Homo sapiens: one gene and its partners. Changing the gene in region 1 together with any one later gene gives a genetic interaction. Each region holds a gene or a part of one and is shown on either strand. Other genes may lie near its edges. The genes, in order: ATG7, RPS5 and SPRED2.

Region 1 (3,652 bases):
CATCTTCAAAATGACTTTACAGACCAGGCAGGGTGGCTCATGCCTGTAATCCCAGCACTTTGGGAGGCTGAGGTGGACAGATTGCTTGAGCCCAGGTGTTGAAGACCAGCCTGGCCAACATGGCAAAACCCCATATCTATTAAAAGACAAACATTAGCCAGGTGTGATGGGATGCCTGTAGTCCCAGGTGCTCAGGAGGCTGAGATGAGAGGATCACCTGAGCCTGAGAAGTTGAAGCTACAGTGAGCAGTGATCGTGCCACTGCACTCCAGCCTGCGTAATGGGGGTGAGACCCAGTCTCAAAACATATATAAATATATATACAAAAAAATGACTTTACAAACATTTTCTAAATAAGTCTGCTCCTAGTACCACCTTTGGAGGATTTCAGTTACCACGTCTTCATCCAGAGAAGTGCCTGTTTGTCTTTGGAAAGAACTACATAACTACTCTTGCACATTCAACCCAATTTTATGTGCATTTTGGTTATTTGTTGATACCTGTTTTAGTGAAAACCTTTGATCCAAACCCACTGGCCCCTGAATGAGAGGTAAACTCTCTGGAAGACAGAGGGCAGGATAGCAAAACCAATAGTAGAAGTGGTACTTCTTTAGATCCTAGAAAAAAAAGTATAAATAAGTTATTAGAATAGCACCATTAACTTAAGGTGAAATGCATCTATTAATGTAGCTTCTCAAGGCCAATTAAGATAGCAAAGCTATGCAAACAAAGTCTGTCCAGCTTATCAAATATCCTCATCCCCAACAGAACTCATGATCAAATAAAGGACTTTTGTATTCCCAAAATAGTCTCATATACCACCACTAATAATATGATGACAAACATAATATACTTTATTGACCACTTGCTAACAGAAAATGTGCAATATGTAATTGATATTATCATCATCATCCTTTAACCTACAAAACCCCCCTGGGAGGTATTTACTATTATCCCATTTTATAAACAGAAAACTGAATCTTACAAAGGGGTAAAAAACCTAAACAACAACAAAAAAGATGGCAAGGGGCAGAGAAGAGATCAGAACTCTGCTTCCAAAACTTAAGCTTTTTTCCACTGACCATAGATACTTAATGTACTATCTACAGAAGCACAACTTCCAAACAGTTACCATTCTCTTCACAATCAAATAAATTACATGTTATTAAGGAAGCTGTGCTATTCACATATGTATGCATGCCTGAAATAATACAATATTGCTTTTGTAAATGGCTTAGTGGATTTAAGTCAACAACTATCAAGCCCTTGCTATGTACAAGGCAAAACATAAGACACTGACAATAAGATGAATAAACCCCAGTCCCAGACACCAGGCAGCTCACTTTGTGGACAGAGCAGAGATAAAGCGAGTGCATGATTAGAGCCATGGAGAGGCTCTAAGTAGTAAGCTGGATGGGTGAATAGAAGAGGTTACATCTTCACGGGTATATCTGACCGATCCCCCACCAGGGTAGGAGATCCAGGGGAAAGGATTTGTGAGGCTGTCTTTGACACTGTTCCCACTCACGCTAATGGCTCTTGCTTCAGAATTCTTACAGCTTTTGGGGCCTTAATTAAATTCATGGTAGCATTCCAGACATATGTGGGTATTTGGCAGCTTGCCTACAAGCCTGTGACCACTGAATATGAATGCAGTTTATGTAGCTAATTAATATTTCTTCTTGAATCTTGCTAAGAATTAAAATTGGATGGTTGTTAGATGACTTTTTATTGAGATATAATTTACGTTCCATAAAATTCACCATGTTAAAAAGTATACAATTTAGTGGTTTCTTTTTAGTATAGTGATATGGTTGTACCATCATCACTATTAATTCCAGAATATTTTCATCACTCCAAAAAGAAATCTCATACATATTAGCAGAGACTCCCCATTCCCCCTCTTCTCATCCCCTGGCAACCACTAATCTATTTTCTGTCTCTGTGGATTTTCCTAGTCTGGACTTTTCATATAAATGAAATCATACTAGATGAGTTTTAAAATGTAAATGTATATGTAATCATGTGTACAGATGAGAAAGTCTAATAATTGTAATCTCTGCGGTCTCTAATTCTGCTATTCATTGATCAACTAAGAAAAAATTCCCTCTTCACAATGGCAAAATGAACTGCAAAGCTGAAATTAATGAACTGTCTAGTCCTATGAGTCCTAAAAAACAGCAGAAGGAAAGCAAAAACACCTCCAGAGATTATTTTCTCTTCTTTGTACTTAAATGATTTGTCATAACCGATATTTAGTAAAAGGTTAAACAATTCAAGATGAAGAAACTCACAAAATCTTTTTTTTTTTTTTTTTGGAGACAGTCTTGCTCTGTCACACAGGCTGGAGTGCAACGGCACGACGATCTCAGCTCACTGCAACCTCCACCTCCCAGGTTCAAGCAATTCTTCTGCCTCAGCCTCCCGAGTAGTTGGGACTACAGGCTGCCATGCACAGCTAATTTTTTTTTTTAATTTTAGTAGATACGGGGTTTAACTATGTTGCCCAAGCTGGTCTCAAACTCCTGAGCTCAGGCAATCCGCCTACCTCGGCCTCCCAAATCGCTAGAATTACAGGCATGAACCACTGCACCCGGCCGGACCTCACGAATTCTAAGAAACTTTATCAGGTCATTTTCAAAAGTCAAAAAGCTTGCATTTCTTAGGATTCTTTTCAGGATAGAAATGACCTCCATTAAATTAAACATAAAGTCCTTGGTGTCTGAAGATTTTAAAAAGTAGATACTTACAATTTTTTTTAAGTCAGGCTAAGAATGCTCAGTAAACAAGGCAGCAAGACCAACACACATACTGACTCTAGGCAAACCTTAAAACTTTAAGTAAGAGCTAATGTTATTTTTCTCATTAAATGCAAACTGTCAGCATGTTCTACTATGAGAATTCTTGGTACAGAAAGCGTACTGACGTTCAAGTAACTAGAAATCTTTAACTAGCAATGCTTACAATTTATCCCAGTAAAGAGCCTACAGGCTGCATGCGGTGGCTCATGCCTGTAATCCCAGCACTTTGGGAGGCCGAGGCGGGCGGATCACGAGGTCAGGAGATCAAGACCATCCTGGCTAACACGGTGAAACCCCCTCTCTACTAAAAATACAAAAAATTAGCCGGGTGTGGTGGTGGGTGCCTGTAGTCCCGGCTACTCAGGAGGCTGAGGCAGGAGAATGGCATGAACCTGGGAGGCAGAGCTTGCAGTGAGCCGACATCGCACCATTGCACTCCAGCCTGGGTGACAGAGCGAGACTCCGTCTCAAAAAAAAAAAAAAAACTACAGAATTACCCAAACGTATAGACAGATTATTAATGCCAAACTGAGCCAAGTAATCAGACAAAAAATTTAAACATTTTTCTCTCTCCTCCACTATTACATAGAAAGCATTATAACTTGTTAGAAAATGTGTTCCTTGTAGATAGCCACCCACTGGCCTTGTTTGATTGCTATCATACCCTCCTTTGCCTTGGGCAATAAATCAGAGGCCTCCCCTGCATCTAGGAATCTAGGAGGAACGGTGGGAGGTCGGGGAAGGAAAACTTGCCAAAAAAAGAAGTGGGAAAGAGGATTAATGTCCAAAGCTGATGATGCTGTGGTGAAACAGCACACTTAATACACAGCAACATTACTGTGTTTATATGC
Region 2 (3,752 bases), on another chromosome or scaffold:
AGGCCCAGCCCTGGGACCTGGGTCAGGTGGCTGGGCCCTTCGGATCCCGAGTTGGAGGGATAACCCCTTGGAGGCAGAGATGGGCATCAGAGACAGGGCGGCCCCAGGTGGTCCTGGAGTCGCCTCGTAAAGGTTATGTCTATGCCTGCTGCAGGCAGAGACACAGTCAAAGTAGTTGCTACCTCTGGAAAGTCCCAGTTCTGCTCATGAGCCTAGATCTAAGAGGCTGGGACAGGCAGAGGGGTATGAAGGGGTCATGGGCAGGCAGACTGTCCACACTGGCTGCCAGGGTGGCCAAGTGAGTAGAGTGAGCTGGGGCACTCACTACCGTGCCAACCCCACGCACGGATGAGGACCCCGGGTCGAAGGCCCACATCCTCAATCCCACGCAATAGTTCAGGCCCTGTGAGAGGGTTCGCTGTCTGCTCCCAGCCAGGGCTGAGCTGTTCAGAGGCCCTACCTGTTCAGAGGCAGCTGGGGGAAGGGACAGAAGTTGGGGGGCAGGGGATTGTGTGCTGGCGGGAATAATCTCCTTCATCTCATGGCTAAATCTTCCATCCCTCCTTTCAACCTTTGGCCAGAAACCTACGTTTCTGACCCTTGGAGAGGTCGGCCAGTTCAAGAGGCACCCCTGAGAGCCACGTCTGCAGACACGAGGGCCTCGTGACGTGAGCCCTGAGGGCAGGGGGCTGCAACCCCTCGCGCGGGCTCCCCGGCCGTGGAGGACACAAGGACAAACACGAAGGGTCCCCGACCTGCCGACCCCCTCCTCCCGGACACCGCGCGTAGCCTGTAGGCTACCTCCGCGCTCCACCCAGAGACGGGTCGCGCTGCTCCCGCCGCCGCAACCCCGGGCCCTCGTGCCGGCGGTCTCCCCTCTTCCACGGGCGAGATTACTGCATAGCAGAGGTGAAGGGCGCGGAGGCTGTGGGGGAACCCAGCGTGGTATGGCAGGAAAGGTCGAGCAGGGAAACAGGCCCAGCCAGAGGCTCGGGATCCGGGGCTCGCGAGCGTGGTGCTCCTGGGCCGGGCGGTGGGGGAGGGGCCGCGTGTGGCAGGCACATGCGCACGGCAACCTGGACCTGCGGAGGGCGGCGGTGACCACTGGGCCTCACTCCGCTAACCCAGGTCCGCATCAGGCGCGTGCCGGTGAGGCGGCTGTGGCCGCGGCGAGGAGTCAGAGGGAACTGAACTGGCTACTCCCGCGGCAGGTGGGATTTAAGGTCAGCAGCTGAACAAAGAAGCGAGCGCTGGCCAGACTTTTTTCTTTATTAGACATGGCTGCGTTGGTCTCACGGAAATCTCTGCGCTTTTGCAGGCGCCCACAAGACAGGGCAACTACGGGGTAGCGGACATCCGCCAGGCACGCTTCTAGGGCCGCTTCTGCAACTGCGCATGCGCTTGGGCTGCACCCATTCCGTCTAGCCCAAAAGGTTCCTCTACAACCTTCCTCCGGATTGGTCTATAGGGACACGATGGCCTTTTACGCAAGCGTCACCCGTGCTGACCCGGAAGTTTTCTTCCCAGTTAAAAGTGTTGGCCCGCGGCGCGCGGCCTCTTCCTGTCTGTACCAGGGCGGCGCGTGGTCTACGCCGAGTGACAGAGACGCTCAGGCTGTGTTCTCAGGTGAGACCGCCGCGGGGCCGGGGATCCTAGGGACGGTTCATGGTCTTTCGGGGATAGTGCCCCGCGGCCTGGGCCTTTTCTCATTAGGTCTCATTTCTGTCTCTGGAAAAGAAAATGTAGAAGAAACGGGCGCGGGCCGAGTTACTCTTGACTTCTTTCTGGTGCTCCGCCGCTTCTAGCTTTTCCCCATAGCGGGGCTTGGGGAACTTGGTTTGAACTATGCGGTTGTACTCTGAGATAGGAAGTTTCCATTTCTTAGGGACACGATGCCCTCTTTTGCTCTGTGTAACTTTCCCCCCGTAATAGCAGCCCCTAGAGCCTTCATACTGTCGGTCAAGAATCGAAACCTTTGGGTTGATTGTGCCACACGGTACCTACCGTGGTCCTTGATGTCATATAACGGTCCCGCCTCACGGCCAAAGAAACAGTCCGAGACGGAACGTTGACTTGGGTCAAAGACCATGTAAATCGCGAGATTGTGGTTTGAATTACAGCCCATGCAGTGTGAGGACGTATGGCATCTGCTGAGCCATTATACCTTGGTCCCAGTGCAGCAGCTGTTGACTGGTGGCTGCCAAGTCTTGGGCCCAGGGGTTCTAGGTGAAAGACAGATGCTTCTTGCTGACAGCTGAGTAATTTTTCTAGTGCTTGAAAACACGTTCACGGCCTTTCTTGGTCCTTTGCGACCCCCCAGTTCATCACTAGATGGCGGCTAGCCTCAGAGTTGGGAATGAGTGCGCCTTTGCTCCATGCTAGCTGAGCTCTGACGTTTTTTTCCTGTCATCACCCTGTCCCAGGATGACCGAGTGGGAGACAGCAGCACCAGCGGTGGCAGAGACCCCAGACATCAAGCTCTTTGGGAAGTGGAGCACCGATGATGTGCAGATCAATGACATTTCCCTGCAGGTGAGGGGAACTTGGTGATTGGCCTTCCTGGCTGGGGGCGGACATTATTCCAGGAAGGCACACATCAAACTTGTTGCTGTGCCATTAAGTCAAGAATAGAGATCATAACAGGTAAAGAAGGGATCCCTTGACCACCACATCTACCACATCTGCTCTTACGTCCTGTTCAAAGATGACTACAACTTCTGTCATGAGAGGACTCCTTCACCAGAAGGAGCATCACATCTCACATATGGTATTTTTGTTACTGTTTTTGTAGTAAAATACATAACATCCAGTGTCATTCTTTTGCATGTGAATATCCAGTTATCCAGTACCATCTCCTAAAGAGATGTTTTTTTTCCCTCAATTGAATGGCCTTGGCCACTTGTCATAAATCAGCTGGCCGTAGTTTTTTTTTTTTTTTTTTTTTTTTGAGACGGAGTCTCACTCTGTTCCCTGGGCTGGAGTGCAGTGACGCGATCTGCCTACCGGGTTCACACCATTCTCCTGCCTCAGCCTCCTGAGTAGCTGGGACTACAGGTGCCCGCCACTGCACCTGGCTGATTTTTTTTTTTTTATTTTTAGTAGAGACAGGGTTTCACCGAGTTAGCCAGGATGGTCTCGATCTCCTGACCTCGTGATCCGCCCGTCTCGGCCTCCCAAAGTGCTGGGATTACAGGCGTGAGCCACCGCGCCCGGCCCAGATGTATGGGTTTCATTACAGACTTTCAGTTATATTCCACTGGTCTATATGTCTGTCTCTATGCCAGTACCACACTTTCTTGCTTTGTATTAAGTTTTGCAATTGGGAAGTGTGAGTTGTCCTACTTTGTTCCTACTCCGTACGGTTTTACACATACCCTTTTTTTCCCCTCCCCATGAAGGCATCATTAAGAATTTTGTGGGCCTTAAGAACTTTAGCTTTTGTGAGCCCTTCCTCCATTAAAAGAAAGTGTTTGAAATTATATTTTGTGACTGCATTGATATAAAGATGAATATAACTTGGGTTGCACTTTATTCACTTTCCTCCTCTTTTTTTTTAATCATTAAAGTTTTATCTTTGAGATAAGATCACTCTCTGTCACCCAGGCTGGAGTGCAGTGGTGTGATCACAGTTCACTGCAGCCTCAATACACCTGGGCTCAGGGGATCTTCCTGTCTTAGACTCCAACTAGCTGGGACCAAAGATGCATGCCACCAAACCTGCTACCTTTTGTTTTATAAAGAATGAAAACTTT
Region 3 (3,652 bases), on another chromosome or scaffold:
TGTAGGAGAATCTCTGCAGAAATCACAGTATTAACAATTTTCAATAGCTGCAGGGTTCTGCTGGAGTCTTAACACTTGAGGGTGGATACAGCTGTGCTGATGAACTCCAATATTGGCATCATTCTTGTATTGCCGGCTGAACACAAATACAGTCTAACAGCAAAATTTTCAGAAATTGAACAAGTGATAATAGAGGCAGACCAGAAAGTTTTGGTGTATGTGATTATTTGTTTGGGCTTGTTTTTACTAAGGTAAATTAGGCCGAGTTTTTTAAAAAGACCCCGTCATCTCAATAAACTTGATAACTTATTCTTAGAAATATTTAAAAATTACTATTTAAATCTAGAACATTGTGATGGTGCTTTTAAGGCATTTTCTAGGGCTCTTAGTGACTTTGAAGTAGAAGAAATATTTTGTATTGATGCTCCAGTGCCCCGTGGAACAAAATATATTTTTTATATGCTTTCCCTGGATAGACATGAAGGATTGTTACATCTTGACATATGTCCCATGTCATGGAAAGAAAGTCAGGCCAGGATCATGGGAGTTTGCTAAATTAAGTAACAATTGTTTCATAACTACCCATTTCCCTTTCTCATGTAACCTTTATCAACATTATGTTCACATGTGGCATATTGCACACGTATTATCAAATTGTGCTTATGTTCTTCCTGCTACTCTCAAAGGGTAGTTGAATATTTATTTAAAAACAAACTTTCTGTGTTTACTTGCACTTAGAGGGTAAAGGTAAAGAAACAGATTTTGACTTCACCCTTAGCATTTAACACTTGTGATTGAAGAGATTAGAACAAATATTGGGAGCTTCTAAAATGTATGGTTTTGGCTCCTCTGTGTCCTGAAATAACGATTTTTCAGATCTGGTTGTTTTTATTCTTTGATATATTTCCTGTGGTCCATTTATAAATGCTTAAAACTTAATTATCAGTTAAGTTTTTAATTGACTTTCATTTGTTCATCTGGTAATGACATCTTTGTCTTTTCATTTTCATTATTTATTCCTCTTGTTTCTTTTTCTTACTGCTTTGCTTTGGCTCTGGCCTCCAGTACTGACTTTTCAGATACGCACTGTTTATTTTGTATTTGCATCCATACTAACTGAGAATGCACAGAGAAGCTTGGCCCATCTGTCTTTCTAGGTGTGGGAATAGGTTTGTTTGTTTGTTTGTTTGTTTTTGAAACAGACTCTTGATCTGTTGTCCAGGCTGGAGTATTCCAAGTGATCCTTCTGCCTTGGCCTCCTGAGTAGCTGGGATTGTAGGTGTGCGCCACCACACCTGGCTAATTTTTAAATTTTTAGTAGAGGTGAGGTCTTCTTAACGTTGCCCAGGATGGCCTTCAGCTCCTAGCCTTAAGCAGTCCTCCTGTCTCGACCTTCCAGAGTGCTGGGATTATAGGCATGAGCCACCTGCACCTGGCATGGGAATAGCTTTATCTTTTATTTTTATTACTTTTTTTTTAGAGATGGGGTCTTGCTCTGTTGCCCAGGCTGGAGTGCAGGGGTGCAATCATGGCTTACTGGAGCCTTGAACTCCTGGGCTCAAGCAGTGCTCCCATCTCAGCCTCCCAAGTAGCTGCGACCACAGGTGTACACCACCATGCCCTTTGAGAATAATTTATTAACCCTCATACCCATGGCCTGGCAGAACACTGAGCACATAGTAGGCTTTCTGTAAACAGTTATCAATTGGTTGAAGTAACTATTCATTAATTGAAAAAATAATTGTACCGTGTATAAAAATTTAACAATTTTTCACAATTTAACAATTATCTTTTTTGGATACCTATATCCAAAAAAGACTTTGAGTTGCTTTTTCAAAACTACTAAAGGAGAGGCTGCCATGATGGTAGTGGAAGAATCATGGACTTTGGAGTGAGACCGTACCTCTTCCCCTGCCACTAAGGGACCCTGCTAAGTATCCCAAGCCACCAGCCCTGGATTAATGTAAATGAGGTTCATTCTGCTGTATACCTAATAGGCTGTTAAAAAGTAGAAATGGACCAGGCATGGTGGTTCATGCCTGTAATCCCATCACTTTGGGAGTCCGAGGTGGGCCGACCACCTGAGGTCAGGAGTTCGAGACCAGCCCAACCAAGATGGAGAAACCCCATCTCTACTAAATATACAAAATTAGTTGAGCATGCTAGCACATGCCTGTAATCCCAGCTACTCGGGAGGCTGGGGCAGGAGAATCGCTTGAACCTGGGAGGCGGAGGTTATGCCAAGCAGAGATCGTGCTAAGCAGAGATTGCACCATTGCACTCCAGCCTGGTCAACAAGAGCAGAACTCCATCTCAAAGAAAAAAAAAAAAAAGCATAAATGAGGTAGCCTTGGTAAAACATTTTAGCACAGCACCTGAGAAATTGAGATTCAGTAGCATCCATCTACCCCAGGTCTGTCCCCCATCATGTAATAAGGTGTTCTTTCTTTTCAGAATTTACAAGGCAGAGGAGATCCATGAACTTTACAAGGCAGGAAACAAGATTTTCACTTTGTACCTTAGAGAGCTGAAATGACTTGCTCAAGGCTCCTCAGGGAGCTTGTGGGAGGATAATTAGGATTTAGAAGTCATGTTCTAAGACTGACTGTTTCTTTTGGCTTTCTAATGGTGTCCTGGTAGTTTTTGTACTGTGATAATCAATAATGCCCAGCTGACCATTGGCCCCTTTACTCAGTGATCCCAGTTGGCTGTGCTTTTTGAGATTCTGAGTTTTATAGCTTGTCTGTTCTCTTAGGGTAAGAGTACCTACCTGTAATAGCATCCTTGGCTCCCCTGCCATCCCTACGCCATTCCTGATATGTGGTCTAGATACCTTATTACCAGCAGCATTCAAATTCTCTCTAAAACAAAAGTCAGTAGGCTTGGTGTGGATGGGTGGGACTGACCATCCTCTTAGGAGTCACTTGGCTTATGACATGTTTTGTCTACTTGAATGCCATGTTTGGCATTTCATTTTATTTTTCCAGCCAAGGAATAAAGTGGACGATGGAGTGGGAATACAGACATAGTGCTAGACTAGAGGTTTAATTTATCAACATCCCAGTAATTTTACTCATTTTTATAGATCTTTTAAAGCAGCGTAAGTGTGACTATAGTCTTAATATAGTTATTACATTTCTCCCTTTTGCTTAAAGGTTAAGTCAAGTTTGATTTTTTTCTCAGGCTCAGACTCGCAAAGCAAATCTGCCTTGCTAGAATGATGTGCCTGGGCTCAACAGCTCACCTCTGGCCCTGAAGGCCTAATAATTGGTTGCCTTCTCATTGATCTGTGTGTGAGCACACTTCAGAACAGTACTCTGCTGTTTGTTAAAATAAAAAACAACAACAAAAAACCTTTGAAGACCTTACCGTCCATTCTAAGATGTCTTTTGTACTAAGGAAAATTGGGGATACTAGATTATAGGTGTTGATTTGGAGTGTGATATACTGTGAATCGGAATAACTTGAATTTAGAATGTACTTAGGCCCCAGTTGCAAAATTATGTGTAAATTATTGTATTGGATAAAATAAATGAGTGGAAGTACAGCCAGAGGAGAGGGAGCCACTAGCCATTGAATGCCTACCATGTGCCATTCACTTACTGCAAATATAGAGCACCTAGCCTGCCATACAATACCAGAGCTGTGGCTC

The links.
Region 2: of ATG7 (region 1) and RPS5, changing one suppresses a phenotype caused by changing the other (phenotypic suppression), as found in Homo sapiens cells (one large-scale study listed by BioGRID).
Region 3: of ATG7 (region 1) and SPRED2, changing one suppresses a phenotype caused by changing the other (phenotypic suppression), as found in Homo sapiens cells (one large-scale study listed by BioGRID).

What each region holds. Positions count from the first base shown.
Region 1 is NC_000003.12:11,310,269-11,313,920, reverse strand, and holds part of ATG7 (ubiquitin-like modifier-activating enzyme ATG7), read right to left. Parts: intron 618-3,652; coding exon 501-617; intron 1-500. UniProt on the Homo sapiens protein: E1-like activating enzyme involved in the 2 ubiquitin-like systems required for cytoplasm to vacuole transport (Cvt) and autophagy.
Region 2 is NC_000019.10:58,385,714-58,389,465, forward strand, and holds the start of RPS5 (small ribosomal subunit protein uS7), read left to right. Parts: upstream 1-1,555; 5' UTR 1,556-1,626; intron 1,627-2,423; 5' UTR 2,424-2,424; coding exon 2,425-2,532; intron 2,533-3,752. UniProt on the Homo sapiens protein: Component of the small ribosomal subunit. The ribosome is a large ribonucleoprotein complex responsible for the synthesis of proteins in the cell. Part of the small subunit (SSU) processome, first precursor of the small eukaryotic ribosomal subunit.
Region 3 is NC_000002.12:65,422,454-65,426,105, reverse strand, and holds part of SPRED2 (sprouty-related, EVH1 domain-containing protein 2), read left to right. Parts: intron 1-3,652. UniProt on the Homo sapiens protein: Negatively regulates Ras signaling pathways and downstream activation of MAP kinases. Recruits and translocates NF1 to the cell membrane, thereby enabling NF1-dependent hydrolysis of active GTP-bound Ras to inactive GDP-bound Ras.